Linked DNA regions of Homo sapiens. The protein of the gene in region 2 purifies or fractionates together with the protein of the main gene of each other region. This does not show direct contact. Each region holds a gene or a part of one and is shown on either strand. Other genes may lie near its edges.

Region 1 (12,290 bases), on a different chromosome or scaffold from region 2:
CTGTATTGCAGAGACAGAGTTAATAAGAAAAAGTTATAGTCTTTCACCCCCTGGAACCAGAAGTATAGTTTAGTTAGCAGTATAGTTTCTTCCTTTTTTTTTTTTTTTTTTTTTTTTTTTTGAGGCAGAGTCTTGCTCTGTCGCCCAGGCTGCTGGAGTGCAATGGCGTGATCTCAGCTCACTGCAACCTCCGCCTCCCGGGTTCAAGTGATTCTCCTGCCTCAGCTTCCTGAGTAGCTGGGACTACAGGCATGCTCCATCATGCCCGGCTAATTTTTGTATTTTTAGTAGAGACGGGGTTTCACCATGTTGGCCAGGATGGTCTCGAACTCCTGACCTCAAGTGATCTGCCTATCTCGGCCTACCAAAGTGCTGGGATTACAGGTGTGAGCCACTGCGCCTGGCTGTTAGCAGTATAGTTTCTTAAACTTTTACAAAGTATCCTCTAGAACCTCTAGCCTCCACATTAGCCATTATCTGAAATGATCATCTCTAGAACCTAATTTGTGTCCTGGTTATCAGAGAATTTCTCTCAGACTGTGGGTGCTACAAGGACAAGGAACATATCTTACTTTTCATCTCTATAGCCCTAATGCTTAGTATCCCATCATATAGGACAGGCTCAAAATGCACTTTAGACAGATGTGTGAATGCGACTGAATACTTCAGTTTCATAAAAACGTGAACTGAGTGAGATGTTTGCCCCATTTTCTCCTTTTCTCAAAGATCCAAGAGGAAAGTACTTGGAAGAAAAGATTCCGGGGACATGTCTGTTCGAAGCAAATCGAGAGCTCCCCTCAGCAGTAGCAGCAGCAGCGCCAGTTCCATCACTTCACCCAGCAGTAATGTGACAACCCCCAACAGCCAGAGGTCTCCTGGTCTCATATACCGAAATGCCAAAAAGTCCAACACATCCAATGAAGAGTTTAAGCTGTTACTGCTCAAGAAAGGCAGTCGCTCAGATTCTAGTTACCGCATGTCTGCCACTGAGATCCTGAAGAGCCCCATACTGCCCAAACCTCCTGGGGAGCTCACAGCAGAGTCCCCTCAGAGCACCGATGATGCCCATCAGGGGTCACAAGGGGCTGAGGCATTGTCCCCACTCTCTCCATGCTCCCCACGAGTTAATGCAGAAGGCTTTTCCTCGAAGAGCTTTGCCACCTCAGCATCAGCAAGGGTTGGACGTTCTCGGGCCCCTCCTGCAGCCAGCAGCAGCCGCTACAGTGTCCGCTGCCGGCTGTACAATACGCCCATGCAGGCAATCTCCGAGGGAGAGACGGAAAATTCTGACGGGAGCCCACATGACGACCGTTCCTCCCAGAGTTCAACATAGACTGCCTGTACCAGGCTGCCTGGCAAAGGCCAAAACCCTTACTCACATGAGGATGGAGGAACAGAACAGAGGACTTGGGAAAAGTCTCAACTTGATGGGGTAGCATCACTGCTAAGCAATGAATGAATTTCTAAATACAGTATGTGCTGGGTAAACAGAAAGTGGTTTAGACATTCTTGATTAGTTTCCATATTTTAAGTAGCTGCAGTCTTTCATGTTTTTCTTTAGCATAGTTTGATTTACGCAATCTCCTTCCTTGTGAAAATAGAGGATACAAAATTGTCTAATTTTCATGACACCTAGAAAACGTTTTCCCAGAGCTGCCTATTCAGAAACTAAAGCCCTCACTGTCATTATTCTTTAAGAAGATGAAATTACTCTGGATGTTTGGTATTTTTTTACATTAAAACAAACTAAAGCAAAATTTAGAAGAAAGAACTACACATATGTAAATACCATATTTTTGATAAAAATGTGTAAATAGATTTATCAATGATGAGTGGACATGTGGTCAATTATCTACTGCACACCAACTGTTTATAGAATACACAAAAATAAAATGTAATAACTGTATTCTGTGAATACCATTTTCATATCAAATGCCATATTTAAATGTCCACCAATATGATTTCTGAGTGGTAAACCTCAAATATGAATTTTAAACTGGTGAACTAAAGGAAATCTTGAGGTCATATACTGAAATATGAATAAATTAAAATAATGAATTCAGATCTAATCATTTTTATGACAAATTGCAGCACCAAACAAACTAATAGCAACCCATGGCTGTGATTTGTTGTGTGGTAATTTGGACAGAATGAAAAGCATGCTTTTGATTTTTTTTTTAATCAGTGAGAGAAGTCATCATTCTCAACACAAAGCCCTGAACAACAGCATTTGACAGTGTCCTTTAGATTTTAATTTTTTCAATGGATTGCTTTAAAGAGAATGAGTAGGGAAAATAGTAGTTAATTTTAGGTTATGTTTTATATTAGGCTACTGGGGACATAAACGGTCATAACTAATGACTGTAATCATTAAACTCCTTAAACAGTTTAGAAATTAGCTCCAGGTTCTTAAACTAACAAAAATAAAACCTAAGCATGCCACAGAGCTATTGATTAATCAGTAAGTACCTGTAATGAGTTTTCAGTGAAGCTTTCTCTCTGTGCTGATGAGATTCATGCTACCTAAAAATTAACAGAAATGACACTGTGAACAATGTAGTTGGAAAATAGGTATGTGTATATGCATTATTTATACTCATTGTTAAACTGGGAATGGGGAACAGCTCTGGTTCACAATACTACATACAACTGAGTTTTTGTCTGGTTTTACTATAGTGTCTGCTTGATGGCAAAAGGGGAGGGTGGAGGGTGGGAGAGGAAATGTCAGGGCATGTGCTCTGATAAAATAAAGGCAGGGAAACAAGCTGAATTACTTGAAATTACTTGAATTTTCTTGTCTTAAAACTGAAAAAAAAATGTAGTTACACGTTAAAATCTGCAAATGGTTTTTACACCTCTGATTTTAACATGAACTTATACTAATGTTTGGAATCTTATGTCAGAAATATAAGCAGCTATGTACTTAGAATAGGTTTTGAATGGGAGAGGTAGAACAGAGAGAGAATTAAGAAGGGATCTGACTTATAAAAGACTAGAATGTGATTAGAGTGATAGAACATACCAATGTTACCAAGAAATTGACAAGCTGCTGGCTTTAAGCTTATGCAAGTGGTAGTTGGGAAAGTAGGAGGTGTGGAAGAGGGTTTGCATTTTGGATTAATTCATGCAAAATGAAGGAGGAAGCCTGGTCTAAGAAGATACTGTCTTTCAATAGAAATGATTTCTAAACTGCTACAGATTAAGAATAGATAATCTGATTGCTGTTGTTTTGTTTGTTTGGAAAGAAAAAAAATGTCTGGCTTCTTCTACTATTTGTTTTCACTACCAAACTGTGTTACTAAATTTCTTGTCATCCTTGTATGTAAAATGGGTGCTGGGGGTGGAGGGGTATAAGAGGAGGGAGAGTCAGAGAGAGTGTGTATGGGTGTGTGTGAGTGTGAGTGTGTGTGTACGCACACACACTGGGGATAGATAAGCTACCTGGTAAAGGGTTTGAACATTTACAAAATGTCACACTTTTTCTTAAAAGAAAAATATTTTGGGGTTTGAATAAAATGGACCACCATTTCTCATTGGAACCCATTAATTAAGAAAACCAGCATGGTTTGACACCACATGGGAACATGAATAAATCTGTCTCATGATTTGAAAAGTACACCTTGCAAAGTTTTAAAAATAAAGTTTTTAGGCAAATGCGATAAGAAACCGTCATTTCCAGTCACAGTAGGCGATCTTTCGTAATTTCATAAAAGCAGTTCGTTTGCAGTATGGCTTTTGTGTAGTTAGGGGTTTTTTAAGTGTGAAGAAAGGTATGTGGGCTTTAAAAGTGATTCTAAATCTTGAATAGAAAACACATGAATTGGCTTTAATAAAAATGTCACCTTTTTATTATTGACATTAAGTAATGGTACCATATATTTTTTAAAATACATATTGACTTGAATTGTGAGGCAATAAGATACCTTCTATATGTAATGATCACAGAACTAACCCTTATAATATAGTTTTACTTATTTTGTTTACTCTAAAAATCTATAGCAGAGTTTCTCTATTTTATATTTCATAGATTTAAAAAACCCAAATAAAGATGGATTTAAAATTCACTGTGGAAAAGAGTATTGAGTTACAAACTGAGAAGAAAAAGCAGGAAGTTCCCTAATAATCTGGAATATTCTACATGGCTTGATTACATAGCAAACAAGACCAAGATTTAGGGCTGTCTTTAACATCACTGCCGTCTTGAAGCAGGGTACACACGTTAGGTATTGTGAAGAACATCAATCCGAACTTTTCTTCTGTTGTTTGCACTGATGCGATTTTTTGTTCTTTTATGTTTATACAACGTATCTATGTTGTGTAGGGGAAATTTTTTCATTTTTTAAAAATTCTACTTTGGTTTTGTTGTTGTTTTGATTTGTTTTTGGCTAAGTAGAGGACATGGACTAGTTGTAGCAAACAGAACATGCTGTTTGCTCTTGCCAAAGGTCAGTGAGTGAGTGCATTTGCTGCAGTGGTGGCACGTAGAGAACTAGATGGTAATAAAGATTTAAAACTATGAAGAAGGTTACAGTGTAACTATTTTGGTACTAGAACCAGTTCATGCTGGCCGAAACGACAATGGTTTATGGACTTGCATCCATTTTGTATTTTTGTAATATTTGTAAATATGAACTTTTTAAATTGCTGCAAAGATGGTTTCTTTTGTAAGATGTTTTCAACGTTTACATTCAATCCAAGCCTTTGTATATTTTAGAGCTGTGCAACACTTTAAGTCTTGTATTTATTTTTAGTAAAAATGGTGACAGTTTCATTGTGAACCCCTCTCAAAAAAAATGTATCAGAAAAGTTTGATTACCTAGAAAGTGTGTATAGAAACTGCAAATAAACGTGACTGCAATTAAACAACCGGTTTCTCTCTTCACTGTTACGTAATTGATTTCTTGGGGCTTCGCAACAGTGTTTTACAGGCAACAGGACATAAGGGCAGGGTCTGTTATGGCAAAAGTAGGAGCAAAAAGAACATAGACCAGCCTGTCCAACATGGTGAAACCCGTCTCTACTAAAAATACAAAAATTAGCTGGGCATGGTGGCAGACGCCTGTAATCCCAGCTACTCTGGAGGCTGAGGCAGGAGAATCGCTTGAACCCAGGAGGCAGAGGTTGCAGTGAGCCGAGATCACACCGCTACACTCCAGCCTGGGCAACAAGAGCAAAACTCCGTCTCAAACAAAAACAAAAACAAAAAAAAAACATATACTATATCTATAATGGGCTTTAATCTAGCTTCGTATTTGAGAGGAAAAATGATACATTTCCAACGTCCAGTATACTTTCTTTGTAGCTCCTCTCTGGGCCAAGAAAAGATGTATAGCTTTACTTTGAAATATCTGCCTGCTTTGCTTCTGATAATTACTCAGACTGTGTCTCCTTCCCAAGATGAGCAGCCTCGATATAAGTATGTAAGACTATATGCCACTAGATGATGTCACATAGCCTTTATTACAATAGCAAAATTCTATGCCAGGTACTGTTCTAAGTGCTTTGCATACATTAACTCATGTAGTCCCCATATTATACCCATTTTACAGATGGGGAAACCGAAGCACAAAGCGGTTACTTGGCTTGCCTAAGGCCATAGGAGGACTGTGTTGGAGCTGGGGGTCCAATCCAGTAAATCTGCCTTCAAGGTCTGCGTTAGTTCCCCAGTCCAACTTGTGGGTGCTGGAGACTGGAAATATCTTGCCCGCCCCCCACCCTGGCCCCCCTCGCCCTTCCTACCAGACCTGGCTCAGGGCAACTGCTAAGGCCCCGCCCCTCTCCTCATTCCAAGTCAATCACTGGCGTGCGTCCAGGAAACCCAGTTTACGACGACGTCTCTGGTGCGTCACAGAGCGCGGGGGAGGGGCGGGATCACATTAAAAAAAAAAAAAAGCTTCGGACACCCCAACAACGAAGGGGGGACACCACGTCCCTAACTACAACGCCACTAGAAGGGTTGCGCATGCGCGCCAGCCTCCTGCGCAGCCGCAGAAACCACTCAGCGCGCGAGTCTCTGAAAGGCCTAACGTCCATTTTCAATCCTGCGGGTCTTGCGAAGGAAAACCTGAGGTAAGAGGCCCCGCCCCACAGCCATCTCCTCAGCAAATTCCCGCCCTCGGCCCCGCCCCACAGCTATCTCCTCAGCAAATTCCCGCCCTCGGCCCCGCCCCACAGCCATCTCCTTAGCAAATTCCCGCCCTCACCCAAGGACTGGGAGAGCACCCGCGGATTGGCCGATCAACGGTGACGCCTGTCAGTGGCCAGACTCCGATTGGTCAGCGGGTAGTCCCGCCCCCCCCCCCCCCCCCCCCCCCCCCAACCGCGAGTGTGGGAATTCGGCGTCGCGGGAGCTCTCTGATCCACTCAGGGGTCAGGGCATCACTGGTCTCGCGTGCGCGTGACCAGGCCCGGTTTCCGGTGCCAGGACCTTTCCGAAGCGTCGAGTGGCCTAACGGTCACAGCTGTCGCCCATCGGAGAGGCAGGACTACTGCGAGCAGTTTTACCGCGACCTCCGGAGGCCGGCGTGACAGGCTCTGTCACTAAAATAGGTCTGTCCAGTCGTACTTTTTCCTCACCTTGAACTTTCCGTCACGGGAATACACGATTTGGCTTAGGGGCCGGGGCTCTCCTGAGGAGAGAGGGTTTGCTTTGCGGGGAAGAGCGAGTCTTGACTTCGCAGCCTCCAATTTCAGCCGCGGTGTGGAGGGGGGTGCTTTGGGTGGTCCCCACAGCCTTTCCGGAGTGCCCGCGCGTGTAAGCTTTTGAGATTTGACAATTTGTGAAGTGCTTGGTGCTGACTTTCGGGGACGACAGGATCCTTTTACAGTCATTCTCCTGTCAGGGGAGGCAGGTGGGGAGCGAGGAAGGATCCAGATTTCGTTAACAGAGCTTTGAGTTTAAAGAATTGACAAACTCCCGAGTTGATTTCCTGTCAGACCTTTTGCGGTTGAGACATAGAGTCTGAGGCTTTGATGGTAACCGCGTTTGATTTAGAGACAGACTGTGCAGCTTCGCTGTTTTATTGTAAATACGTAAATGAGGAGGAAGAGAAAAACGTAGGGTGTTGGGAGCAGAGGCGGGAGGCGGGAGATCCTGCGAAATCGGAGTCCCTTTGGAGTGGGGGAGGCCGTCGAGGCGTGCGAGGGCCCGGCCCCCTTGCCGCGTGGTCGTTAACAGGAAAGGCCCTGATTTGGTTGGTGGCGGATCGCGTCCCTCCCTCCTCTCCCCGGCTCTCCCCGAGTGCGGCAAACTGGCTTCAGGTTGACTAAAAGATAGCGATTTTCCAAGCAGCTTTGCCGCGCGGTGTTTTCTAAAGCGGGGCGTGGGCTGGGTGCCCTTTTGGGCCTCACTTGTCCGGCCTGCGGCAAGTGCTGGGCGATGGGATGCGGTTCTGGCGGCAAAGGAAGGGCTGCCTTTGAGAGTCCCGCAGGAAGGTTTAGAAAGTGATTGTTCTTAAAACAAACAGAGCGTTTTGCTGTGTGTTCCTCAAAGTGGTCCCGGTGGGAGTGGCGCCTCATTGTGAGCTGTGCCTTATCTGATGAATTAATGGCAGGTGAAAGCCTTGCGCCTCCGGAGCGAATATTTACGACTTTTGAAAATGTCTTTAATGTCTAAAAAAAGTCTTTTAGAAAATCAGACGGCCTCTTGTTCTTATGTTATCAAGAGTTTAGATTTCTGTGGTAAATATAAGTGAGTTTCATTTTAAGTAAACTCATTTTACGAGATTTGAGATTTGAAAGTGAAATTAATTAATTTTGCACAATCTAGCCTTGGGCTCTGAGAAAATGTTGTAAAGCTGTAATTAATCTTGTGGGACGAAGTGAAAAGGAACTAAAGTGTATGGTGTAATGAATAGTTTAAATTTCTGTGGTAAATACAAGTGAGTTTCATTTTAAGTAAACTCATTTTTATGGGATTTGAGATTTAAAAGTGAAATTAATTAATTTCGCACAATCTAGTCATGGTTGGGCTCAGAAAATGTTGTAAAGTTGTGATTTATCTTATGGAAAGAAGTGAAAAGGAATTAAGGTATATGGTGTAATTAAGAGTTTAAATTTCTGTGGTAAATGCAAGTGAGTTTCATTTTAAGTAAACTCATTTTTACGGGATTTGAGATTTAAAAGTGAAATTAATTCATTTTGCACAGTGTAGTCATGGTTGGGCTCTGAGAAAATGTTGTAAAGCTGAAATTATTTATCTTGTGGGAAGAAGTGAGAAGAAACTAAAATGTGTGGTATTATCAAGAGTTTAGATTTCCGGGGTAAATATAAATGAGTTTCCTTTAAACTCATTTTTGTGGAATTTGAGGTTTAAAAGTGAAATTAATTTTGTAGAATCTAGTCATGGTTGGGCTCTGAGAAAATGTTGTAAAGCTGTAATTTATCTTGTGGGAAAAAGTGAAAAGGAACTTAAATTTATGGTGTTATCAAGAATTGGCCAGGCGCGGTGGCTCACACCTGTAATCCCAGCACTTTGGGAGGCCGAGGTGGGCAGATCACTTGAGGTCAGAAGTTCGGGACCAGCCTGGCCAACATGGTGAAACCCAGTCTTTACTAAAAGTACAAAAATTAACTGGGCATGGTGGTGCAAGCCTGTTACGCTAACTACTCGGGAGGCTGAGGGAGGAGAATTGCTTTAACCCGGGAGGCAGAGGTTGCAGTAAGCCGAGATCATGCCACTGCACTCCAGCCTGGGTGACAGAGTAAGACTCTGTCTCAAAAAAAAAAAAAAAAAAAAAAGAAATTTAGATTTCTGTGGTAAATATAAATGAGTTTCATTTTAAGTAAACTCATTTTGTGGGATTTGAGATTTAAAAATGAAATTAATTTTGCACATTCTAGTCATGGTTGGGCTCTAAGGCAATGTTGTAAAGCTGTAATTGTTTGCCTTATGGGAAGAAGTGAAAAGGAATTAAAATTTATGGTGTGTCTACTATGAACCAGGCATGATGCTGAGAGTTTAACTGTGTAATTTTTGGCCTAAATAGCCCTGTGAAGTAGATATTATTCCAACTTTACAGGTTAGAAAATTTGAGGCACAGAGAGGTGAAATATTTGCCTAAAGTGAAACGGCAAATTTGGCAATTTGGACTTGGATTCAAGTGTTTATAACTAAAGCCCAGCTCCTTGCATCATACCCTGGTACCTAAAAGACATAAAAACTCACTTCAGGTGCAATGTGAATGAAAATGACGTTATGACCCAGGCTTGTTGTCTATGTGCTCCTTGAGAAATAGTTCTGTTGGATAGATGCGGTCAATACTCAAAAGCCCTTGCTATCTTTGCCATGCATTACTCTAAGCACTTGACATGTATTAATTTAATCCTCACGATTCCGTGAGGTATGTGCTATTATCATTCCCATTTTACAGACAAAAAAAAAAAAGGATTTAAGTAAGTTGTTCAACTTACTTACACAGCTAGTATGTGGGGGAGGTGGGACCCAAACCCAGGTATTCTGACCACAAGCCTAAGGTCTTAATGCTGTTTGATGCTGCCTCTCATGTAACCAGATATGTGTGACAGTTGCCGTAGAAGTATTAAAGTGTGAGTGTTATTGTAGTTCAGGGAAAGCCGTGTCACATCCACATGGGATGATCATTGGCATGGTGCCCTTGCTTTTTGGAGGTGAAACTTGAAGTAAGCCTTGAAGTTGAATAGATTCTCCTAGGCGGAGACACAACAGGGTATTATGGACGGAGGGCATAACAGGAGCGAGAAGCTCAAAGAGTGAAAGATTGGTGTTGATTTGTATATGTACCAGAGATGTAAACATGTTGGGAGTCCAGTGGTGGACTCACTGCACAGTGCTCCTGTGTCTAACTACAGCCAAATTTTGACAACATTGTTATTAATCCAAATAGGGAGTTCTCTGTTCTCTGGATGTAAGAGCTTGTAACCATTGTCTGCAAACTTGCCTGAAACAGGCTACACAGTAAATATTTTAGGCTTAGAACTGCTGTCCCCAGTCTTTTTGGCACCAGGAACCGGTTTTGGTTTTGTGGAAGACAATTTTTCCACAGATGCAGGGACGGGGGAGTGCTAGCGGGGTATAGTTTCCTAATGAAACTGTTTCATAAGGAGAGTGCAACCTAGATCCCTCGCATGTGCAGTTCACAATAGGGTTTGTGCTCCTGTGCGAATCTAATACTGCAGCTCATCTGACAGGAGGCGGAGCTCAGGCGATAATCCTTGCTAGCTCCTGCTGTGCTCCTAACAGGCCAAGGACCAGTACCAGGCGGTTGCCCAGGGGTTGGGGACCCCTGGCTTAGAGTAAAGGGGCAAGTGGTAAGAAGTGACCTCTGCGCAGTGGGCGGGGTCCTGATTATGGAAGGACCTTGCAGGCCATGGTAGGAGTTTGGATTTTACTGTGTTATTGGTAGCAAAGGTATACCAGGTGATTTTAATAATGAAGTAAAGTGCATAGAGTGTGGTGGTAGACTGCACCATTTACTAGCAATGGGACCTGGGCAAATTACTTAAATCAAGCTTGTCCAACCCGCCTTATTTTGTTGTTGTCGTCATTGTTGTTGTTCTGTTTTGTTTTGTTTTAGGCTTTCGGCAGCCTGAAGCTATGCTTTTTAGTTTCTGTCTCTAGGGATAAGTGGAAAAGAGGGATGAGGAAGGGGCTTTCCTGGCCCAACCAGAAACAAACTAAGAACCCATGACTATATTCCCTCCCTTGGACACCCCTAGTAAACGTTCTTTGCTTCAGTTTCCTCATAAGGAAAATGAGGACAGTAATAGAACCTATCCCACAGGGTTGTCAGTAATTTAGCAAGATAGAATACCTAATCAAAGAATCAAAAGAAAGTACAAATTAAATTAGAAATAATAATTTTAAACTGTGGTTTTGCTAAAAATTCTGTAATTATGATGAAATGATTATCCTTCTGGATAAAAATAATTTGTCAAAACAACTCAAGAAAAAGTAGGATAATTTGACTAGATCATCAACCATGGAGGAACTTAGAAAATGTTATAAAAACTGGACCCAGAGAGTTTTTTTTATAAATTCAACCCTTTGAGCACAAAAATTGTCGTGCGATGTAAACTTTTTAGAGTATAGAAAGAGATGAAAGGCTTCCCAGCTAATTTTGCAGAGCAATTTTGATACCAAGTGTTAATAATGTAGCAATACAACACTGATTCATTAATTGTGAGAAATATACCATCTCACCAATGTAAGATCTTAGAAATAGAGATGCAAACAATTTCTAAATAAAACACCAACAAATTGAATGTTGTTGTTTATAATCAGCTGGACCCCTCACCCCAAGAACATTAAGAAATGTATTAATATGTTGCATCAGTAGATCAAAAGAGAAAAGTCACTTAGTCATCTGATGCCAAGAAGCTATTTGGTACTATGTATTATCTGTCCTGGTTTTAAAACTACATGCAGGACCAGCAGGATACTACCTTAGTTTATTTTGGAACATCTGGCTGACCCCAACAGCCCTCCTTAGTGGGAAGAAGTAGAGGAGAATTTTCAAACGTGGAGACCTATCCATTGTTTCTACCTCTAGGAATTTATCCCATAGAACTACTTGCACAGGTGCAAGACTGTTCTGCAGTGTTCTTTATAAGAGCAAAACTTTAGAAGTAACTTGAATATCTATGAATTGGGGGCTGTGTTTAATAAATCATGGCATATTTACAAGATAGAACACTAAGAAGTCGTTACAGTAACTACAGTAGACCTAAAAGTACTGGTTTGGAAAGACTCTTTCCACCACAGGTTAGTTTTGCCTGTTTTTGAGTTTAATATCAATTGAGTCATATACTGTACTCTTTTGTTTCTGGCTGTTTTTAAACCCAAGGTTATGGTTGTGAGATTCGGCCTTGCTGTATACAGCAGTAGTTGGTTTATTCTTATTGCTGCGAAGTTCCTTTATATAAATATACCACAATTTAATTACTGATAGCCTGTATAAGTTTTATGGTCAGAAAACTCAAATAGTTTAAAAAGTGAAATTTGATTGAAGTTACAGCCCCAATTAGAGAGGTATTTTATAACTTGATACTTCTATGCAACATTAGTCTGCGTTTATCTAACTCGAGTTAGTTCTCCCATCTTCTTTATCCCTTTTGATTTCTGTCTTTTGGGTTCATGGTCATTAGTATCTCCACTATAGAATGAAAGGGAAACAGGAAAGAGATGAAACCTGAATCTCTTAATTGTGCCTCTCATTACTGCTCTGGTTCAGAAAGGATAGGGTAGCTCTTTCATTAACGTACCCTTCCCAGTAACTGTGATGCAGACATTCAAAGCAAATTTCTAGTACAAG
Region 2 (7,940 bases):
TTCCACCACCTCCCAGATGAAGTACAGGCCATTGCCACCCTAATTGAGAAGCAGGCACAAATCGTAGTAAAGCCAAGGATGGTGTCAGAAGAGGAGAAGCAGAGAAAAGCTGCCCTCCTGGCCCAGTATGCTGATGTGACAGATGAAGAGGAATATCCTTTCTGGAGTCTCGGCACCATTCCCTAAAGCTCAAGCCAGACATATTTGTGGGTTTACAGTGACCTTTGGCAAGTTGCTAATCCCCCTCTATAGCTTAATTTTCCCCTCTAAAATGGCAGTAATCTATGGCCCTTTGTGGATATGCGGAGTGATATTGGATTAGTTGATACTGGACTTATATTTTTCAACACATAATCATTATATTCCTGAAAACTTTGGTGTAAAACAAATAATGTCTTAATAGTCCATTTATATTATGCTTTCAGAAAATACAATATAGCTGTAATTCTTTATATTTGTATAATACTTTTCTATACAGTGTAGTATAAAGTATAATCCATCTTTATGTTCTTTCCCAGTCAATAAGGAAACTGAGACACCAACAGATGAATGGGTGATCAGAGGCATTCAGAAGATTAGTGGCAAAACCAGGACTAGAACCTGGGTATTTTTGGGTGAAAGATTCTCTAAATTTAGAGCAGCTTGCATCTTTTCTTTCTTATGTGACCAGGTAGTTAAAAGTAAGGCTGAACCTCCAAAGCAATACCAGAATAATTCTGGACAGAGTCTCGCTTCGTCGCTTAGGCTGGAGTGCAGTGGTACAATCTCGGCTCACTGCAACCTCTGCCTCCCGGGTTCAAGCCATTCTCCTGCCTCAGCCTCCCGAGTAGCTGGGACTATAGGCACGTGCCACCACGCCCAGCTAATTTTTCGTATTTTTAGTAGAGACAGTGTTTCACCATGTTAGCCAGGCTGGTCTCGATCTCCTGACCTCATGATCTGCCTGCCTCACCCTCCCAAAGTGCTGGGATTACAAGCGTGAGCCACCGCGCCTGGCCTCTCTTCTAATTTTTTTTTTACGAGTTTTCTTGCCAGGGTTGGCAGAGCTATGGTTCCGGTGACATAATTTCTCATCTTGGGCTAGAAAAGGACTTTTAAAGCAGTGGTTCTCCTGGAGGACTTGTTAAAACACAGATTGCTGGGCTTCACCCACAATTTAGTAGGTTTGGCATAGGTCCCAAGAATGTGTATTTCTAATATATTCCTGGGGGTTTTGTGAACCACACTTTGAGAACCACTGTTTAAAGGTCATCTGGCTTCCAGGTAATGTGGCAATCCACCCAGACCAACTTAAGTTTCTTTTCAGCCTCCAAGAAAAGGATCTTATAGAAGATATATCAATCTTTCCTAAGTTGAGGTTTCCAAAGATGAATCTCCTGGGTTTATCGCCATATCCCTGATAATGTGCTCCCTCCATTCAGTGTGCTTTTCCTACTTACCAGTCTATTGAATGTTTTCTAATGTTAGGTTGGGATGTTGTTTTCCATCTGACTTTCCTTAACATCACTTACTGAAGCAGATGAGAAGGATGATTCAGGTGCTACCACAATGAACATTGGTTCTGACAAACGTATCCTTCTGGGTCCCTCCCTATGTGTTTCTCCATAGAGTCCTCTTGAGATCAGTTTTTATTTTGCTGTCATTGCTGGCGGCTCCCCTTTACCTTCAGGAACTCATGTCATGCTAACATTGGGAGCCCTATTCCTAGGACAGCCCTAGATAGTCAGTTTAGCAAGAACTTTCCCCAGAGAAAACAAGTTAACAAGTACTGTAAAGGGATTAGTTTGGAGGAAGGATTTCTAAGGGAAAAATAAAAATCTATACTCTGAGTTGCCCAGCATTAGGGAGAAAATTAAAATAATATTGAGGTCAGGCGTGATGGCTTACACCTGTAGTCCTGGCACTTTGGGAAGCCGAGACAGGTGGATCGTTTGAGCCCAGGAGTTTGAGACCAGCCTGGGCAACATGGCAAAACCCTGTCTCTACTAAAAAAAATACAAAACACTAGCCAGGTGTAGTGGCATGTGCCTATAGTCATAGTCCCAGATACTCAGGAGGCTGAGGTGGGAGAATCACCTGAGCCCAGGAAGTCAAGGCTGCAGTGAGCCGAGATCTTGCCACTGCACTCTGGCCTGGGATATGAGAGTGAGACTGTGTCTCAAAAAATAATAAAATAATGTTGAAATTTTCTCTTTTTCCTCAAAAACCTTATAATTTGTCAGAGAATACAAACACCAAACACTTTTTTTTTTCTTTTTTTTGGGACAGAGTCTCGCTCTGTTGCCCAGGCTGGAGTGCAGTGGTGCGATCTCGGCTCACTGCAGCCTCCGCCTCCTGGGTTAAAGTGATTCTCCTGCCTTAGCCTCCCGAGTAGCTGGGACTACAGGTGTGTGTGCCACCATGCCCGGCTAATTTTTTGTATTTTTAGTAGAGACGGGGTTTCACCTGTTAGCCAGGATGGTCTCGATCTCCTGACCTCATGATCTACCTGCCTCAGTCTCCCAAGTGCTGGGATTACAGGCATGAGCCACTGCGCCCAGCCTAAACTCATTTTCTATCTCTTATAGATTCAGTGTGTATGGTTATTAGAATGTGGTTTTCACTTCAGCTTTAGTAGTCTAGGAACAAAAGCAAATTGATAAAGTTTAATAAGGTTAAACATCTTATTTAACTCTTTTAAGGCATTTTAACAGAGCCAAGTACATAAACATTTAGTCAGTTACATTACTACTCTGTTCACCAAAACTAGCCTAGATTCTCTAATATTCTGCCATTGAATGATATAAGTACTTATTCTAGAATGAAATTTCATTTTGATGAAATATTTTGTTTTCTTATTTTTTTGTTTCTTTGGTAAAATATTTTAAAATTCAGATTTAGGTAAATCTGAATAAGAGTTTTATTCCAAAGGACATTTTAAAACTTTTGTAATATAGCTTTAGGATTTCTCTGTTAGACCAAGGATAAACATAAGGGTTTTTTTTAAAAAACCAGGAATAGATAAAGACGATTCAGGACTCAGCAGGTGGAGAGAGGATAAGTAGAATGAGGAAAGGCAGCAGTAGGTGTGATCTGTGTGACCTGTACCCTAATCCCTTAACTCACCTGTAGTTCTGTTCCGAAACACCAATGTGGAAGATGTCCTTAATGCCCGAAAACTGGAGCGAGACTCACTTCGGGATGAATCCCAAAGGAAGAAGGAACAGGACAAGCTGCAGAGGGAGAGAGACAAACTAGCCAAGCAGGAGCGCAAGGAAAAGGAAAAAAAAAGGACACAGAGAGGGGAGCGAAAGCGATAACCTTGGCCTACTCTATTCTTTCCCCCCATGAACTTATCAAAGGGAGAACTGGTTGTGTATTTAAGAGAAATGAGAGTGCATTGCAAAGTAGTTTCCCAAGGCATTTCCCCTATTGTTTACATGGTCAAAAGGAAAATCAAAATCACTTCTAATTACAAAATGTGCTGTTTTGGTGGGGTGGGCAATCAGATTATTATAGTTGATGACTGTACCAAAGATCTGGAATGGGGGCCACCTTTATATTTTAATACTCAAGTCCTGTGCTCCTTTTGGCCACTTTAAAAAGTCTTCCCTCACCTTGGATAAATAGGATTCAGAAAGCTAACAGTTTTCATTCTGAAGGAGCAGAAACATAATCAATCCCTCCCTGAGATAAAATGTGGGCATGCACATTGCTTTGGAGTCAGTATTCAGCTGTAAGTGTAGTATTGTTTTATGGCTGAAATAGAAAGCTAATGAAGAGGCCTACCTGGATCCAGATTTTATGTTAACATGGCAGCAAAACTAGGAAAATGGGAAGAAATTACTTGCGGGGTGTTCTAGATCTGATTTTTTTTTTTTTTTTGAAAGTTTCAGCCTGTGGGAGGAAAAGAGGTATCTTTTAAAATAGAGATAGTTACATATTTTCCTCATCTAGGCTGTGTCACTATTGGGTGCAAGGATATCATTGTTGGCTAGATTCATTTTGTATAATCATGTATCCTCTTGTGTGCTGGTAGAGATTTTAATCCTGATTTTTCCATAAAACATGAGTATTAAGAAATAATTCCTGGTTTGGAGAAACTGGAGAAATCACCCTTTTAAGGAAGAAACACTGGAAATTTCTGCTAACACCAAGATATTTAAGAGTGTACATAGTAGGTGCTCAACAAATTTATTGAATGAATGAGTGAATGGAAAAACTGGGAGAGTCAAAAGTGAGCAGAAGCTCTCCATTTCTACTTCTGTCACAAACCACATTAAATTGTAAATAAGGCCCTTCTCCACTTGACTTCAGGCAGCAGATTGTCTAGAAGCCTAAGGACAGCAATTTCTCTGACAAGACAAAGTAGATATTTTATACCAGGGGTTGGCAAACTACTGCCCACGGGCCGAATTTGGCCCAGTCTGTTTTTGTATGGTGCAAACTAAAAATGATTTTTACATTTTTAAAGAGTTATAAAAGAAAAAAATATGTGGTCTGTGAAATCTAAAATATTTACTACCTGGCCTGTTGGAGGAAAGGTTTGCCAATCTCTGTTTTATACCATTAACTATGAGATTAACAAAAACTTTTACCTTTGTGCAGAAGGTTAAAAAAAAAAAAACATGGTTAAGGAAAAGGAGACATGTTACCTCTTCATACACTCCTATAACTGTGGCATTGCAAAAAATAAAAATAACCACCTTTAAAAAAATAAATCTTATTTAAATTGCTGTCTTCTGACTTATTTTGATTGCTTCTACGTACCCATGGAAATGAAATATGTGTGAGTAGTTACTTAGGAATGTGTTGATTTTTATTTTATGCTTTGTTTTGATTAGCCCTATAACTTATATTCCACTAGTGGAAGCTCTTCCTGGAATCCATAAATCCTCTTTCTCAATTTTCCTTTTTGTGAAGTAGGAATTAGATCAGAAAGATTAGCATGTTTTTTGGAACATCAGGAAATTGGCTTAGAGGTCCTTACTATTACAGTCTTAGTCCTTTATGTGGTGGTAGCGATAGGGTATGATAGAGCCTATTTTAATTTAGTAATCCTTATTTTGGGATTTTGGGTTGTTCTCACCTTGATTTTTGTCACTGAAGGAGTCAGGTTATATCCACGGTCCCCTGAAGGGTACTTGTTTCAATTTGTTAGTAGTCAGTTCTTTCTTCTGGGACTCTGCTATGTATGTCACAGTTAAGTATACTCTCAAACTAATGCTTAAACAGAAAATAGAGGATCAGCTCATTAGGCTTTGAGTTTAGTTATCCACTTGACTCAGGTGCTAATAAATCCTTTACGTCTAAAATGTTCAGTATTGCAAAGGGCATATTTTTTTTGTTTGTTTTTTGAAACGGATCACTCTGTCACCCAGGCTGGAGTGCAGTGGCGCCATGTTGGCTCACTGCAACCTCCACCTTGCGGGTTCAAGTGATTCTCCTGCCTCCCCCTCCCAAGTAGCTGAGACTACAGGCGAGTGCCACCACACCCAGCTAATTTTTTGTATTTTTAGTAGAGATGGGGTTTCACCGTGTTAGCCAGGATGGTCTCGATCTCCTGACCTCGTGATCCACCCGCCTCAGCCTCCCAAAGTGCTGGGATTACAGGCGTGATCCACCGGCACCCAGCTGCAAAGGGCAAATTTTAAACAACCATATCTTCTATGGTAAGATTGAGTTTTAGGCCAGATTTTGGATTTCAGTCATAAATTCTCAACCCTCTAAAACTTTATAGTAGCAGATTATTCAAGTGAGAAGGACACTGATAACAACTCAAGGTAATTTTGCTTTTTCCATTAAAAAGAATGAGTACACCAAGTTCTTTCAGATTAGAAATGGCGGGAGCATCAGTTTTATCAGTTTCACTGCAAATTTTGTAAAAGTTTTATAATGTTTTCATAGGTTGTAATTCAGAAGTACAATGTTTTATAGGTTGTAATTCAGAAATACAAGTACATAAGAACCATCTGTTAGAGGATATGCCACTGAAAGGGACAACCGACTAATTTAAAAATTATCTATTGGGTGATATGATTAACAATATTTCAAAGAATTTTTTTAAGTGTTTGGTTCTTATTAACGGACTGGTATTTCATTTCTGACCAGTATCATGTAAAAGCTTCCCTAAAATTTTTATTCTGGTTTACACGGATTAGCATAAAGATAGAGCAAAAATTTCATCTTTGAAGGAGATCTGGTTAGATCCATGGATATCTGAATGGCATTGATTTATAAACCAACATTATTACTTGTGCGTTAATAATGAAATCTAAAACTTAGTATAAGTTCTTAAATGAAATTCATTTGACTTTCTGATATGAGTGACTCTTAAGGTTAGAAACATATGAATTTAGAAAAATGAAACCAAATGTTTTCAACAAAGTAATTTATTTTTTTCCTGAGACTAAATTCAGTACAGTATTTGTTTTTATAACATCCAACATGTCTTATGTTAAACTTAACCACTTTCTATGCAGTGACTGTGGTGAGATGATCTATTTTATTTGACTACCCTCAATGTAATTCATTTGGGTAGTTCTAAGGCATATCAGTGATCAAAATGTTTCTCCCTACAGTTACTCTTGCATTCTCAATCAGTTTCTTCTGCACATCATCTAAAGAAAATTTATGTGGTATGATTACACTCTTTTTTTTTTTAATACCAGAATTTCTAAAACTAAGAAAAACACTAACATTTAAAACATCAGTGTTTCTAGTCAAGGATATTTCAATTAAATTTCATCAGTACATTATAGTTTAACTCATGCTAGAAATGTTAAAACCCAAGATCTTCTGAGTCACATAATACCAACATTTCATATTAACGAATAAATTACTCAAGTTCTATACAAAGATACTAAGTGATGAGAAACAGAAAAAGTTAAGCTTTCAATAGTTTTAAAAAAATACAGAAGCAAACTAATGAACACAACTACGCAAAATATAGGCTAACCAATTGCAAGCTAAACTAGTTAGAGATTAACCTTTAAAAAATACATTTTAGAACTTAGAAGCAAACTAATGAACACAACTACACAAAATATACACTAACCAATTGCAAGCTAAACTAGTTAGAGATTAACCTTTAAAAAAATACATTTTAGAACTTCGTGACACCCTCATAAAAGGCAGCAAACTAAGGGTATTAAAACAGTAGTCATTATTTCAGTTACTGTGCATCAAGTCTAAAAGATCCAGATAAAGGGAATGTTTTGTGATTCAATTTAAATAACTTTAAAATTGGAAACATTTAACAATTGATAATATAATTAAAATTTAAAGAATATACACAAATGATCTGAATAGGTTTTATATTCAGTAACTTGCATGGTTTTTACACTGACACTTTTATCATTAATTTAGGAGAATCAGATGCATTTCCCTCCATATACCTAGGCATTAAGATTCCAAATTTATAAATATGGTAGTATAGTATTTTAAATATTAAGTTTGTACATGAATATTGGGTTTATCCGTATTTTCCTTTGTTTCCCAGGTATTATCCAGTTTTGTAAGGAAAACACTTTGATATCACAATCAAAACTTGTCTTGGTTACTAGGCTGTAGCCGTAATTGGGTTACAGTCACTTAGATTCATTATTTGGAATTATACTTAACTAAGACAAACCTAAATGAAATTTATCTCCTAGAAGAATTTCACATTTGCATTTACCTGCATGGCAGAATGAGTTTAAGCACATTTTAGCTGTTAGGAAATATTTAATTTACTTAAACTTGTTATCTGACTACTCAGAACTCTGAGTAGTCAACTGTACCTTTGCGTTTACTTAAAACTATATCGGATTCACTTCAAATAGAAGATTTTTAAATAGAAGTTAGACTTCATTAAGGTACTGGTATTAACTTTAAATCTGAAAGAAAACATACTGAAAGTTTGACAAGTTCATTAAAACATTTTTAGCATGTCTTGGTATATTTATCAGCTTTTTATTCTT
Region 3 (12,103 bases), on a different chromosome or scaffold from region 2:
CTCCATTGCACATGTTACATTAACAAACCTAACAAAGATTCTCTGTCATGAAAATACCGTAGGCCACCTTTTGACAACTGAGTTTTGCAGATCTGCTTTCACATTGATAAACCGAATTTGTATATGTTAAGACAGATACAGCACTGATTATTTTCATTTTAATTATTCCAGGTCAGCGCCTATGATTGCATACAGAGACATGCATAAACTATTTAGGGGAATCTGATCAAAGCTCTTAGGAAAATTTCGTGGTGCATAACGATAGTATCACTGTCTCGGTTTACATCCATAGTTGGTTGTTAAATTACAGGCAGATACCTCCAGAGAGCTCCCTGCAATTATTGAAATTACTTCTGACCTTGAGTTTTTATATGCTTGTACATTACTGTGTAATTTTCCAAAGTCTGGATTTATTTTTGAGAGAGTGTAAAGAATCATTTGCTTTAATCTCTGATCCTGGGTGTGGGTGAGGGTGGAGTGGCTGTGGTTCAAAAAAACAAAAATATCATATTGTGCAGAAAATTTAAAAAGGACATTATTAAAATATTTAGAAATCAAGATAGATTAACATTATTGCATAAAGAGTACTTTCTAACTAGGCAATTTAAGAGAATGGGTCTTTCTTTTCAAAAAGTGTAATAGATAAAAATGGGATAATCAGTGATGTGCAAAACTCTGAACATGCTTTCCTAAGAAATCATCATTACTCGTTGTCATTGACAGTGCCCATTATATCTATATCAATATGAATGTCAGTTAAACATCCTCTCCTTGCCTAGTGGTCAGCATTCTTTCTCTCCTATTAGCCATGAAATATGTGGCATAATTAATCTTTGATTAACATAGATTTACATATCCAAGAATTGTGGCTCTTCTCCACTGCGAGAACTGTTAATTTCTTCTATCCTTTTTGAAAAGATTAGAAAGTGCTAATATGAAGGTAATCACTTCTTACTGTAGGTAAATGAAAACATCTCTTGATTTCTTTATTGGTAGTAATTTCCACAAGAAAGCTATTTTTCTCAGATAGTGAAATTGCATTTAATGTTTTCTAGAAATAGTACTTTAACTTTATTTCATCTTATTTTATCTTATTATATTTTTTTCAAAAAAGAGATGGAGTGCTTTGTTGCCCAGTTTGGTCTTGAATTCCTGGCCTCAGGTGATCCTCCTGCCTTGGCCTCCCAAAGTGCTTTGATTACAGACATGAGCTACTGTGCCTGGCCATTAGTTCTCTAGCTTTAAACAACAAAGATCAAGAGTAGCCTTTACCACATGGTATAATTCGAATGTGTCCCCCAAATTTCGTGTATGGGAAACTTAATCCTCAATGTGACAGTATTGAATCTCCAATGTGGGGCCTTTAAGAGGAGACTGGATCATGAGTACTCTGTTCTTATGAATGGATTAATCCACTTATAGATTGATTTGTTATTGGATAAATGGATGAATGAGTTATCATAGGAGTGTAGAACTGGTGGTTTATAAGAAGAGGAAGAAAGACCTGAGTAAGCATGTTAGCATGCTCAGCCTCCTTGCCATGTGACACCCTATGCTGCCTCCATACTCTGCACAGATCCCCTGCCAGCAAGAAGGCTCTCGACTTCTCGAGATCTGGCCCCTCGACCTTGGACTTCTCTGTCTCCATAACTGTAAGAAATACATTCCTTTTCTTTATAAATTACCTAGTTTCTGGTATTCTGTTATAAGAAACAGAAAGTGGACTAAAACATCACACGAGAAATTTCATATCATTTACAACTGCAGTATCAACTGGGCATTAACAACTTTTTAAAAATGAAACAATATTTTATTTATTTTTAAAATGACCTAAGGAAACTTTAAACAGGGATTTGATGTCAGATATAAAAATTGAAATTGGGAGGAAGGATAATTTTCTCAGTAGGAGGCTGTGCTCCATTTTTTTTGTCTTTAAATATTTTAGATGAGTATTCAGAATTGTAATAAATTATGCATGTTCTTTTTTCAGAAATTAAAATCACACATTCTGACTTTATGTCCTGGTTTAGGAGGTTGCATTGTTTCTCAAAATAGGAAATGCTAGCATATCACAATGTGAGCATATTTTTTATGCTTGAAACTGTTGATTTAAAGATCATAGGAAAATGGGGAGGGGAAAAATCCTAATGATTTTGGTTTGTTTGTTCATTTGTTTGTGTTTTTTCAGTTACAGTCAACTTGTTTGTCTTTGATGTTAATCTGTACACGTTTAGCAGCTTCTGCCGTTTTTATGGAATCAATTGTGTATTGCTGTGGAAAGAAGTTCATTGTCAGCAGTGCCTTTCAAAGTAGACTTGCTGCTGTTCCATCTACAGAATTTCAGTGGTTGCTCCATATATTGTTTGAAAGCTTGAAACAATTTCCATATTTTCTTGCCCTTTTTTACTTTTTAGGAAAAGGATTGAATTTGTTCTATTGTTTTAATTATATGGACATTAAGACATATTTGAAACCACTTATGGTTTAATATGACAAACGTGACATTCAGTGGTTTCAGAGGTTAATACCTTTAATCATATTACTGTAATAAAATATTTTTATATAATGAAGAAACAGATACCTCCAATTTGGGTAATTTATAATGTAGTTAACATTAAACACTATATTTATTATTAAAATATTAAATTTTGCTGCAAAAAAATCATAGGTTACTTTTTTACTTGAATAGGCTATTAGGGCTATTCTTTTTTATTTTTAATTGACATAATAGTCGCATCTTTTTAGGGGGCACAGTGTGGTATTTGGATACACATAATAATGATGAAATTAGGGTAATTAGCATATCTGTCACCTCAAACATTATTCATGTTAGAAACAATTCAAAACCTGCTCTTCTAGCTGTTTGAAAATATACATTAAGCTACTATTAACTGTAATCATCTTATGGTGCTATAGAATACTAGAACTTTTTCCTCTTATTTAGCCATAATTTTGTTACCCCGGGCTGTGGACCAGTACTGGTCCGTGGCTTCTTAGGAACTGGCTGAACAGCAGGAGGTGAGCAGTGGGCAAGAGAGCATTACAGCCTGACCTCTGGCTCCTGTCAAATCAGTGGTGGCACTAGATTCTCATATAGATTCTCATAGTAGCACAAATCCTGTTCCTGTTGTGAACTGCACATGCGAGGTATCTGGGTTGCCAGCTTCTTGTGAGAGTCTAATGTCTTTTGTTGAAACCATCCCCACGCTGTCCTGTGGAAAAATTGTCTTCCACAAAACCAGTCCCTGATGCCAAAAACATTGGTGACCGCTGTGTTAACCAACATCTTCCTACCCGCCTCACCCTTCCCAACTTAACAGTAACCACTGTTGTATTCTCTACTTCTATGAGGTCAACTTTTTTTTTTCTTTTTTTGAGACAGGGCCTCACTCTGTTACCCAGGCTGGAGTGCAGTGGTGCAATCATAGCTCACTGTGGCCTCCAACTCCCAGCTCAGTTGATCCCTCTGCTTCAGCCTCCCAAGTAGCTTGGACTACAGGCATGAGCTACTATACTCAGCTAATTTTTCTATTTTATTTTTTTTTTTTTTTAGTAGAGATGGGGTTTTACTATGTTGCTTAGGCTGGTCTTGAACTCATGGGCTCAAGAGATCCTCCTGCCTCAACCTCTCGAAATGCTGGTATTACAGGTATGGGCCACCATGCCTGGTAAATCAATTTTTTTAGCTTCTACATTTGAGTGAGAACATGCATTATGTATCTTTCTGTGCCTTGCTTATTTTTACTTAATGTCCTCCAAGCTCATCCATGTGGTCTTCAATGCAGGATTTCATTCTTTTTTATGGCTAAGTAGTATTCCTTTGTGTATATATACCACTTTTTTTTTTTTAATCTTTTCATCTGTTGTGGAAATATAGATTGCTTCCGTATCTTGGCTATTGTGAATAGTGTTGCAATAAACATGGGAGTGCACATATTGTTCAAGATACTGATTTCCTTTTTAGGGGGCATATATCCCTAGTGTATATGTTCTATTTTTAGTTTTTTGAGAACATAGATTACATCTTAAAATTAAATACAAATGATATCCATGTGACTGCTTTTTGCCATAGCAATATTTGGGAAGAGTCATATCTGAGGAGAATGGAATAGCAGAGAATATCAGTGTATTTTGAGGTGGTGCCATTTCAAATTGCTCACATCTCTCACACTTTCCACATGCTTGTGAGTTTTTGCTGTCATGAGCCACTTGATCATGGCTATGCTAGAATCATAGGCATTGATTGGAATAGTAGTGGCACTGTGGAAGAAAAAAGAGAAACTTTTTATCTGAAGAATGTGCCCCCCTTCACCACTTCTATTCAATGTAGTACTAGAAGTCCTAGCCAGAGCAATCAGACAAGAGAAAGAAATAAAGGACATCCAAATGGTTAAAGAGGAAGTCAGACTGTTGCTGTTTGCTGATGACATGATAGTATACCTACAAAGCCCTAAGGATTCATCCATAAAGCTCCTAGAACTGGTAAATGAATTCAGCAAAATTTCAGGATACAAAATTAATGTACACAAGTGAGTAGCCCTCCTATATACCAACAGTGACCAAACTGAGAATCAAATCAAGAATCAGCCACTTTTATAAGACTTGCAAAAAAATTAAAATATTTTGGAATATACTTAACCAAGGAGATGAAAGACCTATACAAAGAAAACTATAAAACACTGCTGAAAGAAATCATAGGTGATACAAACAAATGGAAACACATCCCATGCTCATGAATGGGTAGAATCAATATTGTGAAAATGACCATACCACCAAAAGCAATCTACAAATGCAATGCAATTCCCATCAAAATACCACCATCATTCTTCACAGAACTAGAAAAAACAATCCTAAAATTCATATGGAACCAAAAAAAGCCCACATAGCCAAAGCAAGACTAAGCAAAAAGAACAAACCTGGAGGCATTAGGTTACCTGACTTTATACTATAAGGCCAAAGTCACCAAAACAGCATGATACTGGTATAAAAACAGACATATAGACAAATGCAACAGAATAGAGAACCCAGAAATAAAGCCAAATACTTACAGTCAACTGATCTTTGACAAAGCAAACAAAAACATAAAGTGAGGAAAGGACACCCTATTCAACAAATGGTGCTGGGACAATTGGCAAGCCACATGTAGAAAAATGAAACTGGATCCTCCTCTCTTACCGTATATAAAAATCAACTCAAGATGGATCAAAGACTTAAATCTAAGACCTGAAACCATAAAAATTCTAGAAGATAACATTGGAAAAACCCTTTTAGATATTGGCTTAGGCAAAGACTTCATGACTAAGAACCCAAAAGCAAACACAACAAAAACAAAGATAAATAGATGGGACTTAATTAAACTAAAAACTTTGTGCACAGCAAAAGAAATAATCAGAGTAAACAGACAACCCACAGAGTGGGAGAAAATCTTCACAACTGTACATCCGACAAAGGACTAATATCCAGACTCTACAAGGAACTCAAAACAAATCAAGAAAAAAACAAACAATCCCATCAAAAAGAGGGCTAGGGACATGAATAGATAATTCTCTAAAGAAGATACACAAATGGCCAACAAACATGAAAAAATGCTCAACAACACTAATGATCAGAGGAATGCAAATCAAAACCACAATGCAATACTACCTTACTCCTGCAAGAATGGCTATAATCAAAAAAATAAAAAAAAATAGATGTTGGCACGGATGTGGTGAAAAGGGAACACTTTTACACTGTTGGTGGGAATGTAAACCACCAACCACTATGAAAAACAGTGTGGAGATTCCTCAAAGAACTAAAAGTAGATCTACCATTTGATCCAGCAACCCCACTCCTGGGTATTTACCCAGAGGAAAAGAAGTCATTATATGAAAAAGATACTTGCAAACATGTTTATACTAGCACAACTCATAATTGCAAAAATATGGAACCAGCCCAAATACCCATCAATCAATAAGTGGATTAAAAAAATGTGGTGTGTATATATACAGACACCTGGAATATTACTCAGCCATAAAAAGGAATGAAATAGTGGCACTTGCAGCAACCTGGGTGGAATTGATTGGAGACCATTATCTAAATGAAGTAACTCAGGAGTGGAAAACAAAATGTATGTTCTCACTCATACATGGGAGCTAAGCTAGGAGGATGCAAAGGCATATGAATGATACAATGGACTTTGGGGATCTGGAGTAAAGGGTGGGAAGGGGATGAGGGATAAAAGATGACACATTGGATACAGTGTACACTGCTCAGGTGATGGGTGCACCAGAATCTCAGAAATCACCACTAAATAACTTATTCACATAACCAAACCCCACCTGTTCCCCAGAAACCTATTGAAAAAACAAAACAAAACCCAAACAAACAAAACAAAACACAACTGAGTTCCTTTCCATTGTGAGGCCTAGAGAGGCATTGGAATGAAACCGCAGTTATGGCACTCCCTTTTGACCTAAGCAGTTATCTCTGGAAGCCACCTTCTATGTAGGATTTAGACTAACTGACGCCAAGTAGCCATAAAATACCATATGCTGGACACCATAAGTCATACCTTATAGTGCAACAATGAATAGCCAGTCACTAATCAGTGATTGTAAACCAATGAGAATTCTTATCAAGCAACTTTGTATCTGCCTTGTTCCTTTTTCCCTTTAAAATCTGCTTGTAACTCAGGTGCCAGAGCACTCCCCAGGCATCTGGGAAATATGTGTTGAGTAGCTGTCCTCATTTTGGCTCAGGTAAACTAAAGTATATTTTGTGCCTCAGCCTTTTCCTTTTAGGTTTACAGTAGGAATAGTAATACTAGCAGTAGTAGGTGTGTTGGAATAGAATAAAGATTGTGAACCAATACTTTAAAAAATTCACCTCTGCCTTGAAAGAGTGTTCTGCCTGTTACTCCTTTTTTAAAGTAACAGCACAACAATACACCTTCTTTCACATCCTCCTTTCCCTCAGCAATTGCTCTGTTAGTATCTCTTTGAAGTGATTTATTATTCATAGCCAACAGTAGAGAAACTTTTAACTTTGATCTAGAGCCACATTGATAATGAACTGGTGATATGCTTGTCCCTTTGCTGCTTTAAATCTGTCCTGTTTTTAAATAGGCTGTTTTGCAACATTGAAGCTTAAGTTTAATATTGATCCAGTACGCACTTATGAACACGAATTATGTGCCAGATGCTGTATTGGGCACTTAGGATACAATGGAGAGCAAAAAAGGGATGTAGTCATGGCTTTTATGGAGTTTGGATTATATTGGAGGAATTTGTTGGGAGAATAATCATGTAAATGAGAAATTGCAACTTTGATGAATACTATGAAAGGTACATAAGAGTAAATGAGACCCTATTTTGGGATGTCAGAGAAGGCTTCCCTGAGGAAGTTATTGAGCTAAGACATAAAGGAATTATGTGTAAATAGGAATGAATTAAGCTAAGAGAAATAGGAATGCCATTCAACATTGCCGTAGAGGGAATGGGAAGTGAAAAGCACCTGTGGTGGGCAAGCGCATAGTGCATTTGAAGATTCGAGAGATAGTTGGTATGTGTAACAAGAGAAGAGGGCAAAAGAAGCAAGGCACAAGATAAGTTTGAACAGACAGAGAGGGACTATTTCTACATGACTTTATGGCCATGCAAAAATATTTGGGGCTTTATCATAATCGTGGGAAGTCTTTTAAACCAGTTCGTAGCCTCAGATATGAAGTTAGAATAGTTCACTCTGACTATGGTATGGAGAAAATTGCAGAGAATGACATGAATGAATGCAGAAAATTGTTTAGAAGGTTTCTGTTTATGTGAGATTATGATAGTGTGGAGTAAGATAATAGAGGTAGGAGAAGGTATTCAGAACAAGAGAAACTGGAGAGGTAAAAATAAAAAAAACCTAGAGATGGATTGGAACAGAGGGATGAGGGAGTTCAGGATAAATCCAAGTGACAATCTTGTGCAGCTGGTTGCCTGAATAGATAGATGAATGTGTTATATTATTAGCAATAACAATATTGCCAACTTTATTGATCAGTTACCATGGGCCAACCTCTCTTCTGAGTCTTTTACATAGACTGATTCATCCAATTCTCACAACAGTCCTGGAAACAGGTTTATTAGTATAGTTACTCCAACTTTACAGGGATTAAGTAAGAGGCCTGAGGCTACGGAGCTAGAGAAATCAGTCTCTGCACAAACACATTATGTCTGATGGGGGATGGAGGAGGTGGAGAGAGAAGCAGACAGAAAGAGTGAGTGTGGCTGAATAGATAGCAAGAAGTGAGATTGTAGGGTACAAGGGAGGTTTTGTTTTCATTTTGTTTTTAAATAAAAACAAATAAAACATAAGTCTGTGAGAAGCATCTACTTGAGAGAAAAGCCAAATATAGAAAAAGAGTGGGGTAGTTAATATTAGTAAGATTTTGTAATAACAGCTACTTAGAAGAGGGAGAGAATGGGAGCAGACAGTAGGAGGTTGTGGAAGTTTCTGTCTGATGGCTTTTTTTTTTCTGTAAAATAGGAGCCCACGTCAGTTGCTAAAAGTAGGTGAGAGTAAGAGCATGAGGCTAGTAGAAGAGGTTTGAGATAGTAATGGAAGAGTGGGAGAGCCAATTGGCCAGAGAAACAGGACTGCCAGGCATTGTTGAGGAATGGCTTGGGGTTAGTTATCATAAATTATGGTGCAACCGGTCTGTACTGTTGTGTGATTTTCTCTAGCAATGCATATCTGTTTAGGTACAGGCACAGTAATGAGAGTAATAACTAGGTTTATTCAATGTTATAGCAAAGGAGTTTGTTATACAGACAAGTGTGTTATTGAAGTGAAAGTGGTAATGGGGCTGATGAAAAGGAGATAAATTGAAGACTAAGGAAGGAGAATTGACAGGATTTGATAATTATGTAGATGCAGGAGATAAGAGAAAGGGTTAAGGATAACACTGCATTTCTGTTTGGGAAATGATTGATCAGTATCTGTAGTGGGTTGAATCGTATCCCTCCAAAATTCATATCCACCCCCAAAACCTCAGAATGTGACCTTATTTAGAAAGAGGGTCTTTGCAGGTGTAATTATGTAAAGATGGAGGTAAGATTATAGTGGATTAGAGGGGGCCCTAAATCCAATGAAAGTGTGCTGATAGGAGACAGAAAAGGCCACACACAGACACAGAGAAGAAGGCTATGTGATGATAGAAGCAGAGATTGGAGTGATGTATCTACAAGCCAAGGGATGCCAGTGATTGCCAACAGCACCAAAAGCTGGGAGAGAGGCACAGGATCTCCAGAAAGAGCCAGCCCTGTCATACCTTATTTCAAACTTGGGGCATCCTGAAATGTGAAAGAATAAACTTATGTTGTTGTTTTAAGCCACCACGTTTGTGGTAATTTTTTTTTTTTGACAGAGTCTCACTCTGTTGCCCATGCTGGAGTGCAGTGGCACAATCTCGGCTCACTGCAACCTCTGCCTCCTGGGTTCAAGCAATTCTCCTGCCTCAGCCTCCTGAGCAGCTGGGATTGCAGGCGCCAGCCACCATGCCCGGCTAATTTTTATATTTTTAGTAGAGACAAGGTTTCACCATGTTGGCCAGGTTCGTCTCGAACTCCTGACTTCAAGTGATCCTCCCGCCTTGGCCTCCCAAAGTGCTGGGATTACAGGCGTGAGCCACCGTGCCCAGCCTTGTGCTAATTTTTTGTAACAGCCCTAGGAAGTTTATACATTACTATTTACTGAAGTAAGGAATACAGGAAAAGGAGGAGCAGGTCTGGGAAAGATAATGAGATAAGATTAGGATATTTTGCATAATTAAGGTCCTTATTCTTCTCGGGTGTTCCTAACATAGTCTCCTAATCATTATTCCTTCCAAACCATCCTTTGGTTGCCTGATCATTCTAGAGTGATTCATACTAGTGGTTTGTATTTAAAAAGACAAACCTAATTCTGTCATTCTTCTTTCTGTATCTCTCTAAAATTCAAATTCTTTGGCCCGGTGATCAGTGTGCCTGTCTGTCTCTCCTTATCTCTTATCACCCCTTCTTAGCTGCTTTTGCCTCAATAAAACTGATCTATTTGCAGTTCTGTAAATAGGCCTTGCTCTTTTATGGCACCTGTACTTTCACATAGGCTTTGGTGTATAATGCCTTCTCTATACCCTTTGTCTACAGTATCAAACACACACTCATCTTTCAAGACTCCACTTACGTCATTGTCTCAGAGAGGGCTTTCCTTACTCCACTCCTCTCTGCTCTTTATAGGCAGAGGCTGCCCTAAGCCCTTGAACTTATTTGTACTTTTAGATTTGTTACATTGTACTATAATTAGCGTTTACCACATCTTTCTACCTCTAGAATGTAAGCTGTTTGAAGGTCAGAACCATGTTTTAGGGGAAATAGTTTGAACCATCAAATGCTTTGTGAAGCTGATTTAGAAGGCAGCATTATCTTTTTGTGAACTTATTTTGGTTTCTAGGAGCTTTTTGTTTGTTTTTTGTATTCTTTGCTTCCATGCTCCCAAACCACATTGCTGAGTACTTCCTTTGGTATAGATATCAGATTGGTTTATATAAGGATTACAGAATTGGTATTTGGCCCCTTTTTAAAATTGGACATTTGGGGCCGGGTGTGGTGGTTCACGCCTGTAATCCCAGCACTTTGGGAGACTGAGGTGGGCAGATCACCTGAGGTCAGGAGTTTGAGATCAGCCTGGCTAACATGGGGAAACCCCATCTCTACTAAATATACAAAATTAGCTGGGTGTGGTGGCGCATGCCTGTAATCCCAGCTACTCGGGAGGCTGAGGCAGGAGAATCGCTTGAACCTGGGAGGTGGAGGTTGCATTGAGCTGGGATCATGCCACTGCACTCCAGCCTGGGCAACGGCGTGAGACTCCTTCTCAAAAAACAAAACAAAACAAAACAAAACAAAACAAAATTTGGAACTGATGTGTTAAATACCAATCATTTTGATCTAGTTATTCCCTGTTTCACCTGTCAGGTGTTTTCATATCTCACCTTTCCCTTTCCACTCCCTGTATTAGCAGATCTCCATTCAAAGCTCAGAGAACTTCTTTCTGACTACCTCCCCTTACCTCTTTTTGAATTGGTACATCACACGTCTTTCAAATAGTGCTTACCACACGTTGCATCACAATTGGAAATGTAATCTTTTTATCTTTTTTTTTTTTTTTTTTTTTTGAGACAGGGTCCCACTCTGTTGCCCAGGCTGGAGTGTAGTGACACGATCATGGCTTACTGCAGCCTCGACCTCCCGGGCTCAAGTGATCCTCTGACCTCAGCCTCCTGAGTAGCTGGGACTACAGCCATATACCACCACGCCCAGCTAATTCTTGGTAATTTTTGTAGAGACAGGGTCTCACTATGTTGCCCAGGCTGGTCTCGATCTCCTAAGCTCAAGCAATCCACCCGCCTTGGGCTCCCAAAGTGCTGGGATTAAGTTGTGAGCCACCATGCCCAGCCTGGAAATACATTCTTATCTTTTCCTAATAGAAAACTTCTAGAATCCATGTCTTATTCATCTTTTTGTCCCCAGATTGTGGTACACAGTGAGTACTCAATGTTTATTTGAATGAATGAATTTTTTGAAACGCATCTGGTGTTCTGCTATAAATCTTCAAAGATTACCCACAATCATTCTGTAATATAAGCTTCATGAGAGCTAGGATGGTATCTGTCTTGTTGACTCTATATTCATGTATACAGTGCCTGCTCCATTGCTGAAAGACTGATCTTCAGGTTCATTTATTCCTCTGGTATGTAATTCACAAGCATATAATTTGTGAGTTAATATTTCATGGTATCTTATTTTGGGAAAAAATTGAAACTGATTGAAAATAACTTTAAACATCATGAAATAAGAATATTGAGTATGGATTTAGTACTTGTGATATTCCTAAAATATTGAGTAGGTTGATTCTCCTCCCCACCCCATCTCCAGTTTGATCATGGAGCAACTGAGTGCTTTGAAATTAAAATGGAAACATTTTTTATTGATTGGATCTTCATTTGAGGTTTACGGCAAATTACTTGTCAGATTTATCAACTGGTTTCCATTTCACATCCCCCAACTCAGTTCATTCATGTTGTCTCTCATATTACACATAG

The links.
Region 1: the proteins of CCDC43 (region 2) and SCML1 purify together in Homo sapiens (affinity purification with mass spectrometry; 3 studies listed by BioGRID and IntAct, with this or other methods). This does not show direct contact.
Region 3: the proteins of CCDC43 (region 2) and GOPC purify together in Homo sapiens (affinity purification with mass spectrometry; 4 studies listed by BioGRID and IntAct, with this or other methods). This does not show direct contact.

The regions. Positions count from the first base shown.
Region 1 is NC_000023.11:17,731,132-17,743,421, forward strand, and holds the start of SCML1 (sex comb on midleg-like protein 1), read left to right. Parts: upstream 1-6,361; 5' UTR 6,362-6,549; exon of another isoform or gene 6,550-12,290. Other genes in the region: actin remodeling regulator NHS, read left to right, coding at 727-1,333. UniProt on the Homo sapiens protein: Putative Polycomb group (PcG) protein. PcG proteins act by forming multiprotein complexes, which are required to maintain the transcriptionally repressive state of homeotic genes throughout development.
Region 2 is NC_000017.11:44,674,215-44,682,154, reverse strand, and holds the end of CCDC43 (coiled-coil domain-containing protein 43), read left to right. Parts: intron 1-16; coding exon 17-152; intron 153-1,511; coding exon 1,512-1,570; intron 1,571-3,105; exon of another isoform or gene 3,106-3,111; coding exon 3,112-3,299; 3' UTR 3,300-4,715; downstream 4,716-7,940.
Region 3 is NC_000006.12:117,589,645-117,601,747, reverse strand, and holds part of GOPC (Golgi-associated PDZ and coiled-coil motif-containing protein), read left to right. Parts: intron 1-12,103.